Regions from separate parts of the Homo sapiens genome. Here region 2 is reported to be linked to region 1. Evidence: microRNA targets listed by miRTarBase, many of them from high-throughput screens and not tested one by one. Region 1 holds a microRNA gene; the other region holds the end of a gene's coding sequence.
What was found. Region 1 holds the annotated microRNA hsa-miR-30e-5p (UGUAAACAUCCUUGACUGGAAG, at 2,692-2,713, opposite strand). A microRNA usually pairs through its seed, bases 2 to 8, with sites in the 3' UTR of a target mRNA and lowers its output. Matches are read on the target gene's strand: a 7mer-m8 pairs with bases 2 to 8, a 7mer-A1 pairs with bases 2 to 7 and ends in A, and an 8mer does both.

Region 2: miRTarBase lists FAM8A1 as a target of hsa-miR-30e-5p. Seed matches in the 3' UTR shown: 7mer-A1 at 3,446-3,452.

The regions. Positions count from the first base shown.
Region 1 is chr1:40,752,680-40,757,083 of GRCh38, reverse strand. It overlaps MIR30E (microRNA 30e), which reads right to left and starts at 2,729; the gene lies at 2,638-2,729. NFYC (nuclear transcription factor Y subunit gamma) reads right to left here. Exons shown (of 10, transcript NM_014223.5): 5 at 3,838-3,933.
Region 2 is chr6:17,607,804-17,612,207 of GRCh38, reverse strand. It overlaps FAM8A1 (family with sequence similarity 8 member A1), which reads right to left. Exons shown (of 5, transcript NM_016255.3): 5 at 493-4,013. The coding sequence ends at 3,869. Among named protein-coding and RNA genes, the nearest start is that of FAM8A1, 9.7 kb to the right of the region's middle. RefSeq lists silencers at 24-224, 1,384-1,584.

The DNA.
Region 1 (4,404 bases):
CCAGAAAAGAGGAAAAGACACTTCTTAGATGTACACAGACCCTGTGGATTGCCTCCAACTCCCCAAAGTAACATTTACAAAGCTGGTATTGACCCCATCCCCACACTATGTTAGGTGCCCTCAACTGTGCTTCCAAAGTACTGTCCTCACAGTATACATTTTTGCACTTGCATGTCAAATTAACTGTCTGTTCTACTAAAATGTTAAGCACCATGAGGGCAAAGCCTAGCTCTCTCTTGCTCTCTGCTATCCCCCGCGTTCCCAGGTAGGCACTCAGTAAGTGCGTGATGAATGATGAATGGATTTAGACAGGCAGACAGTTAGAGGCAGGAAAGTAGTTCTCTGAATCCAACTTGCTGATATGACAAATTCTCTTAAACCCAACAGCTGTTACCAATAGAAAAAAGTAGTCTCTAAACTCTCTTTTGGTACCTCTAAGACTCTGTGGCCACAGTGTGAGGAAGCAGCTAGTGTCCCCTGTGGAACAGAGCTGAGTATCCTTTGTTTGCCTGATGTCTGGGGGCTAGGATACTAAAACTAGGACTGCCAGTATCTACCCCTGAGAAACATGGGTCTCTGCATGACATGGTTACTTGACAGCCATCTACCCAGCTTAGGGAGATACCTGTAACATTCTGGGTTTCTAAGTTAATATATGAACTGACTTTTTAGGTTGATATAGTCTGTGCTTCAGACACAAATAGTTTTAACCCTCAATATGATTATGCTAAGGCAGAAGGAAAAGGAGATTCCCTTTTATTTTCATCTAGGTCTCAATTTCCACAACAATTTCAACCCCAACTTATCATCATTATAAATAAATGTCAGCCTGGAAACTAGGTATTGGCTGTGGCAAAGCTAAAATACTGATACCTTTTGCAGCCAAGAAACAGAAGCCAACTGCTCTTTGCAAAGCTATTGAAGTAGGTTCAAGGTACTTGTGTTCCACTGAGATCTCCCTTATTATTTTACAAAAAGCACAAATCACTGAAATCCAGACCTAACTTGGAAAAGCTCTTGGGTAATGAGAGGGTATACAGGAATGAGAGCCTCAGAACCAGCTGTGTAGGAAGCTAGGCAGCAGGGAGACACCTGCATTTTCTAGCCGTGACCTGTGATTGTTTAGTCTCCAGTTATCCCCAACTACAGCTGATCTAGTATTGAATATGATCTTTTTGTCAGACAAAAAGCAAACCCTTTAAAAACCCCTTCCAGAACCCAAAATATCTCTTGCCAAAAGCTGTGAGAGCAGGACAAGAGCTCCTCCTATGCTGCTTACTACATCCTCTTAAACTGTTTATGAACTAGACAGTATCTAGGACACTGAGAATCAAGTGGAGGCACCTAGGTTTGTGTTGTTAGGACAAGGCACAACTGTTCTCAAATCACTGGAATGGAAGAAGGCATATCTAAGGCTCTTCTGCATTATGAAGACTCATTCTGCCAATGGAGGTCAAGCCAGCAAGGAAATGATTATGCTTGGTTTAAAGAAATGGGTGAAAAGATAATGACATTTCAATGGGCAGGAACTTTCAACTCAATAGCTTTAGTGGGGCAGAAGTCAGGCCTCAACTACCTCCTACCTTCAAATAATCTTTACTTGCTTCTCTGAAGAACAAGCGAAACTCTCAAGTATCTTTGAGAAGTCAGGGCCTTGGACTCACAATTCAGTATTTCTGACTAGTTCCTTTTCCCAGCAGTGGGAGGTTGCCCCAAGTGGCAGAACAATGCTTTAATGACTGGATCAATCCAGAATGGGGCACTTGCTCAACTTTAGCAGTGGCCTCCCCAACTACAGGGCTTGCTCTTGGAATCTTTCCAGAAGCTGAGACTGACGAACAGTGCCAGAGAAGAGCAGCATCACATCCTAGGGCCATCTCTACAGTGTTGTGCAACCAGCCCTGACTGGAAAAAAGTACATTCGCTTTAGTAGCAAGAGTGAACTGCTGCCTCCTTCAGAAAGGGTGGGTTTTGGAGAGTAGGCGTTTTAAAGGACTTTAGGAGGTGCCAGCCAATTTGAAGCCTGGGAAAACTTCATGTCTACAGAGGATTAAAAATGCTATCTTAGAATTTCAGGCCAGCTTTCAGCAATCTCAACCTTTCAAAGGCCAGGCAGCAGCTGTCCCGAATACGATGCCAATCAATGCCTCGAACACCTACAAAGAACTAAATCCAAGCAACAAGAAGCTGTTTCAGCTAGACACACTTTAAAATCAGATGGATCATAGCATTTTGAGTCTGGCTAAGATGGAATAAGGAGCTGTATGACACCCCGAGAGACCCAGAAGCACTGAGGAATTTGGAGGAACTGACAGGATGTGACCCTTCTCTCCAGCCAGTGTATTCAGCAGGCAGCCCACAGAAAACAAGGAGTTAGCACAATGAGAGTGAGCAAGGCCTGATTTCATCACAGAGCTCACAATCTTGTTTTAAAGGGGGCTTCTGATAGACAAAAGGAGAAAACAATTTCAACAAGGAAAGCAGGTGTATGATACTCTTTGTTCTGAAGGAAGATAAATGGCCTGAGTTCTTGTTGTGACTTCTGAGAGAGGAGGGAAGGACCCCCAAGAGGAGGAATTGAGCCTGTGGGCACAAACCTGCAATGTTTCAAAGCCGGTGCGTAGCTGGGGACGACCGTGGCAGCCTGCCGCTGTAAACATCCGACTGAAAGCTCCTCTGAACACCTTACAGCTTCCAGTCAAGGATGTTTACAGTAGCAAAGACTGCCCAGAAAGAACGGAGACGCAGTGAGGCACACCCTACTCTAGTAAGGAGGTGACAGAGGGCTTGCTAATCCAAAGGCCCTCATGCAGGGTCAGAATTACAAATGTTCATTAGGATGCCCACTTCTCCTAGACTTTCTCTGACTGGTTATTAATACAGGCTGGGATGGGGAGAATGGCTGTCACTGAATGACTGCTTCTAAGGATAATATACTATGAAATAATTCATTAAAAATAAAGTTTTATATAACAAAGCAAGCAGAACAAGGCACAGCTTTGCTCCTGTGAGATTCTGCCACAATTTCCCAAGTGGCACCTAGTGAATCATGCAATCTGCATGCTTAAAACAATGAGCTCTAAAGGACAGAGGTCTATTACAATCACAATTAAGAGCTATATGCACCCAAGGTGCTGAAAAAACAACTAGTGTGACCTTTGGAGAGGGGCAGGCAGAAGAGACGGGAAGGCAGACGTTCATATTCTTTCTTGTGATTGCTTGCAAAACAGCTCAAGTGGTGGTTCTCAAATCTGACTGCACATTAAAAGCATCCAGGGAGTTTTAAAAGGTACTGATGCCTGGGCTCCATCATGAGATTCTGATTCAGCTGATGTGGGTTAGAGCCTGGGCGCTGATATTTTTAAAACCCCAACAGGTGATTCTAGTGTGCAGTCAGGGTACTATATAAAGATATAATGAACCACAATATAGAGGAAGAGAAAACATAGTCCATTCACTCCAAATGCCACTGTGCACATAGAGAAGCTGTTTCTTAAAAATCTAAAATCTATAACTTTCTGGGAATATTCTCCTATCCCAGATGAAGAGCTCTGATAGACTTCCTAAGATAACTTGAAATGAGCTTAACTTTACCATTTGTAACTAAAGTCTTTCATTTTCATTTTGTCTATTTTCACTGAAATACCACTTCGGAGGCACTGAGTTAAAAGTATCCAGAAATGAGTAACAGAAGGAGATGTTAAGAATGAATCTGGTCTAGAAACGAGAAGCAAAAGGAATAGCAAATGACTTGTGCTGAGAGAGAAGGAGCGTATCTGACACCAGTATACAAAGCGCTCTTCAGTCAGCAGCAACTGCAATCCCTTCACAGCTCACCTGACGCTTTGGAGGTTTCAGTTCATCTCTTGGAACAATATCGATGAGAAAATCAAACTGATCAAATTTTGTAATTGCCATGGCGATATCATTTCTCTGTAACAAAGAAGAGCGGTGTGAAAAATTAGCCTGGGGAGAAACTAGTTCACTTGGCTTTATACCCTCCAAGTAAGGTAAGACGACTTTTAAGCCAAACTAAACACCTACGGGCAAGTCTACAGCTGAAATAAGCACAGCCAAACTCATATACTTTAAATGATCAGACCTGGTGGGCAACCATCAACAAAAAAGAAAGAGATACATGTAACTCACACTGTAAAATGGGGTATCTGAGCCTCCAACCACTGCTACTCCTGCTTGATCCTCTCCCCGCGATTTTCAAATTACAAACCTAGTAATCTCAATTAGCAGGTTTCTGGTCATTCTGTGGGTTAGCAAAGTTAGGTTTATAATCTTTTTAAGGCCCTAAATAATATTTTCCCTTTGGTTCACAAGTATTGAATTAGGTAAAATCCTAATTCAATAACTTTTTGCAACATTTTCAAGTCACTGGATCTATATACACTA
Region 2 (4,404 bases), not on the chromosome of region 1:
AGTTCTAAAACAAGTTTGTGGCTAGGCTCATAACAGCAGCACATTGTCTACAGGACTTGGACCATCTTTTAGCTACAGTCTAGTTTATCCTTTATTATCTTTGCCCCTGTTGAGTGAGGAACCCGTTGTTTTGCTTCCTGCCTTCTCTCTGGACCTGTTCATAAAAGTTGTTAGAATGGGAAAGGCTTTTAAGGTCAGAACTGGGTTTAAATTGCCCAGATGAGACTTGTGTGGTGGTTGTGATGGTTAACAACTCTTGAAGGACTGGATTAGTTTAATAGTAAGCTTAATTCATGTACAGGTAACTTCTGAGTGTGCCTGCTAAAAGAATATATCCTTAAAGATGGGCGATTCTTTTTTCATAGATCTCTATTTCTGAAAGCATTCTAGTTTACTGCTAAACCCACTGGAAAACCTGTATTTGGAGGCAAGGTCTCCCTAAGCAGATTCTAGAGCAAACTGTCTCAAAGAAATAGACAAAATACAGATGCATTGATGACTAAGTATTTATTGAGACAAATAATACAAATTGGTGGCATACAAATTATTAAAAATAGAATGCTGAATTTTATTTATAGGTGGGCCATCAGATACTGTTTACAGGTTAAGCCTTACTATAATGAACTGCAAAGAAGTATGTATACTGTTTGAAATGAGGAACTTTATCCAGGCAAACATGGGATGTCAAGAGTGGCCTGTGGTACTGGAGACAAGGAATATCAAGTAATTGACATGTTACTTGTCTGTCAGATTTTAAGAATACTGTTATTTAGGCATATTCAAAGAAACAACTGCCTGTTTTAATAGGGATAAGTATATAACGAAAACATTTAATATCCATACCCCCCTCAAAAAGCCCTTTATTCCCAAGTAGCAACTAGTGTAAATTAATTTTCAATTCCTTTCTACCCTTCCTTTGCTAGAAATACTTATGCATAACTAAAACACTCAAGTCACTGAAGGGAACAAATCCTTTTACTGTCACTTGAATCTAAAAACACTCATTTTGTAATTTGGGCGAAGTAGCTCTCAAATATAATGCATTTTTTTCTATCCTATATATATACTTGGGTAAAATCGGAAGGTGAGTGCTTAGGCAGAAATAAGTAACTATTAAACCAGTGGGAGCAAAGTTCAGTTGGGCAATACTCTTTATGATACTGACAAGTGAAGGCTTATTAGTTCCAAAAGTGCTGGCTTTATTTCTGTAGTCACAGAGTAGTCTAAAGGTAAGGCTTACCCAGCTCTTGGCTCCCAAGTTAATGTTATTTATTCAGTATGCCAGATTTTTCTCAAGGTGCATTAGCTACTCAGGATAATTTTACTGGTGGGAACTGAGATTTTCTAGACGCCTAAATTAACTGCCAATTCTGGTTTATCTTAGGGACATGCTCATTGAAACAGTATTCTCACTCAGCTTGAATACTAAATTTTGTTCCCTTATTGTTAAAGTGATGAATATGTTTGTACAATGAAGACAACTTTCTTTTGGCTTTTTAGGCTACAGCTTCAGCATGAGAATTATACTTTGACACAGAAAATCAGGTCTATAAGTGAAATATAATAAAGTGTTCTGGAAAGCAGGAGACTACCTTACAACCCCAAGAGAAAAATATGTGGCACTAAGGTCTGGTTCCTTCTTCCCTCGTTGTTTTGTCATTTTTTTCCAAACTTTGGGAATCAAAATCTCGGTGCAAATACTGAATTCATAAATTGAAACAGACTCTTGGGTTCTATTATGAAGGCAAATAATACTTCTATGTATTTTGTAGGGTTATACAGTATAATACCTCGAATCCATGGTTGGATCTGACTGAACCTACATAGATACTAATCTGAATAACTCATATATAGAAAATGTGCAATATTCTAAGTACAAAAAATTAAACTGGACTAGTTTGCTTTTGTTTTATAGTATAAATGAAAATAATCTCGATGGCAAACTATTCAATTATCTGAGCAGAAATTATGAATGAAAGATGTATTCCAGACCTATATGATTGAGGGACATTTCAACTTGAATTCCCCAGCGGCAAAAGTGGTGTATAAACTAATGCTAGTGTATACACTACTAAAGTGCCAAGTTACGTAACATCTCCTAATTTTAAAAATGAAAGATTTTTCTTTTTTTCACTGTGAAGGGCAGTAACACAATCTTCCCCATGGGTGCAACTGAATGATTTATTTAGTACATTGATGTACTTAATTATTAGTGTTTCTGGGAAGCTGGATTTGACATAAACTTATTTTGAAAAACACGGTTTATGAAATTTTGTACTAAAATTATTAATAGACATTAAGTTTCTATAATCAAATGTGAATATCTGTTGTCACAGTTTTAAACGTCAAAGAAAAACCTTTGAAAATTAATATAGTGATAATAGATATGTGCTGTGTTTGCTGTTAAATTTAAGACCAAGAACACCACCTAGATTGATCCCTTAAGTAATCAAATTTTGAACTGTGCAATGCAGTTTAGTGTGTCTTTGGAAAACAATGTCAGAGCTGGAGAAAATACCTAAGAATCAAAACTTAAACCATAAATAGTACAGGTATATCTCAGCACAGCTAACTGGGACATCTAGGAAAAGCACACACACATAATAAAACCCCACAATTTTGCTTCAACAGAAGAATAAAGCAAAATGGCAACATACACAGTATCACTTTGCGTAACATTTCCCCCCAAACTTTAGCAGACCCAAAATGAGCTTAAAGACCCTAGAATGATGTCTGGGAATGCTAGTCTCTCTTGCTTTAGAGAGAATAGTCCATAATGGGAAAATTGCTAATATTTCGCAAGCTATTAATTAATAGTACTTAGAGTTAATCATGAAATATTAAGATTTTTTTAACTCCTTGATGTTTCAACAGTCATAGAACTATATAAAATATAAGGAAAGTAGTATGTGAATATGCTGTATATAAATAGAATTTACACTGAGAACACTGAGAAGCACTAATACTTTCTTCATGCTGCACACATACTGGGAATACTTTTACAGTAAATATGCAACTGTTTGATGGAGGTGATTTCTCCCCACATTTATAGTTTGATTCAGGGCACTGAAAACACTTGCACATAAATTATAAGTTCAATTTACAGTGAAAACTTACTCCCCCACCATTAACAGTAATCACTAACTTACCTTTTAAAAAAAAAAACCAATTAACATAGCAATATGACTTGATACTTTTTCATCATCATGAGAAACTTGCCCCTAAATACATGTTCAAGCATTAAGAATAGTTGTAAAGTTACATCATTACGAGAGGGAACTGCAGTATGGATTTGAAAACTTCAGGTAAGGGAACTGCTAGGCCTGCCTCACTTGTCCCTTTCTCTTGTAGCCAACTCACCACCTCCTGGGATGGGAGACAGTGGATTATCCAATTTGTGTTCTCATTCCCTCCTCTAAACACCAAAGACAATTTCCCCAGGAAGTGTAAACTAAAAGATGAGTTACATAGGTGTTTACAAAACACAACTGGACATTTTCCATTATTTTGGGATAAACCAAAATAAATTTTAAAGTTTCATTTGGAGATTTCAAAGCTGAAAATGCTTTCAGCAAATTCTTAGATCTTAAGAAAGTACCTTAGATCTTAAGAAAGTATATATTGTCCATTGTTTATAAAATCATTTGCCTTTTTGATCTAAAAATTTTAATACTTGAATTTAACAGGTTTTTCTTCTGGACAAGTTCTTTGGCATTCAAGTATAATCAATACTTTCAGAGTAGTCACCTGCATCACACTGGAGTGACTGCTTTAATTTCTAAATCATCAATTAGTGTAACCCAGGGATACTGATGGCCTTGATACATAATTTAGTCTTAGTGTGTGGAAATCAGGGTTTTGGGGGGCATCATCTGACCCCATTTCTTTTTACCACAATGGTTCCTGCTACAATGTCATAAGCTGTTCGATTATGCTGAAAAAACAGCAGTGTGATGAAAGCAGGGAAAAAAGAAGCAATTGAAAAATTCTTGATCAAAGCTCGGATAGTGGACCTAAAAAGTTAAAACAAAAATATCAGGTAAGTTACACATCAAACCACATATAGATTAATGGTATCCCATCAAGTTCAAAATAGACATTTAAAACACAATTGTACTTCTCTACAGAAGTCTACAGGGAAAAAGACATTCAAGGTATAGTTGAGAGAATTTTTACCTTTGATATATTTTCAAGTAGCACTGTATCATGATCAAACCACCTGGGCTATTTCTAATAAGACTTCAACAACATAAAAAGCAGTAATAAACATGTCTCAGAATATTGAATTAATGGTTTACAGAGCTTTCTAGTATTTTCTCAGAAGAAATGAACATTAATTCTGAGTACTTTCTGAGTATGCTTACTGTAGTCCCATTTGTCTACCTTATAGAAAAAACATGCATT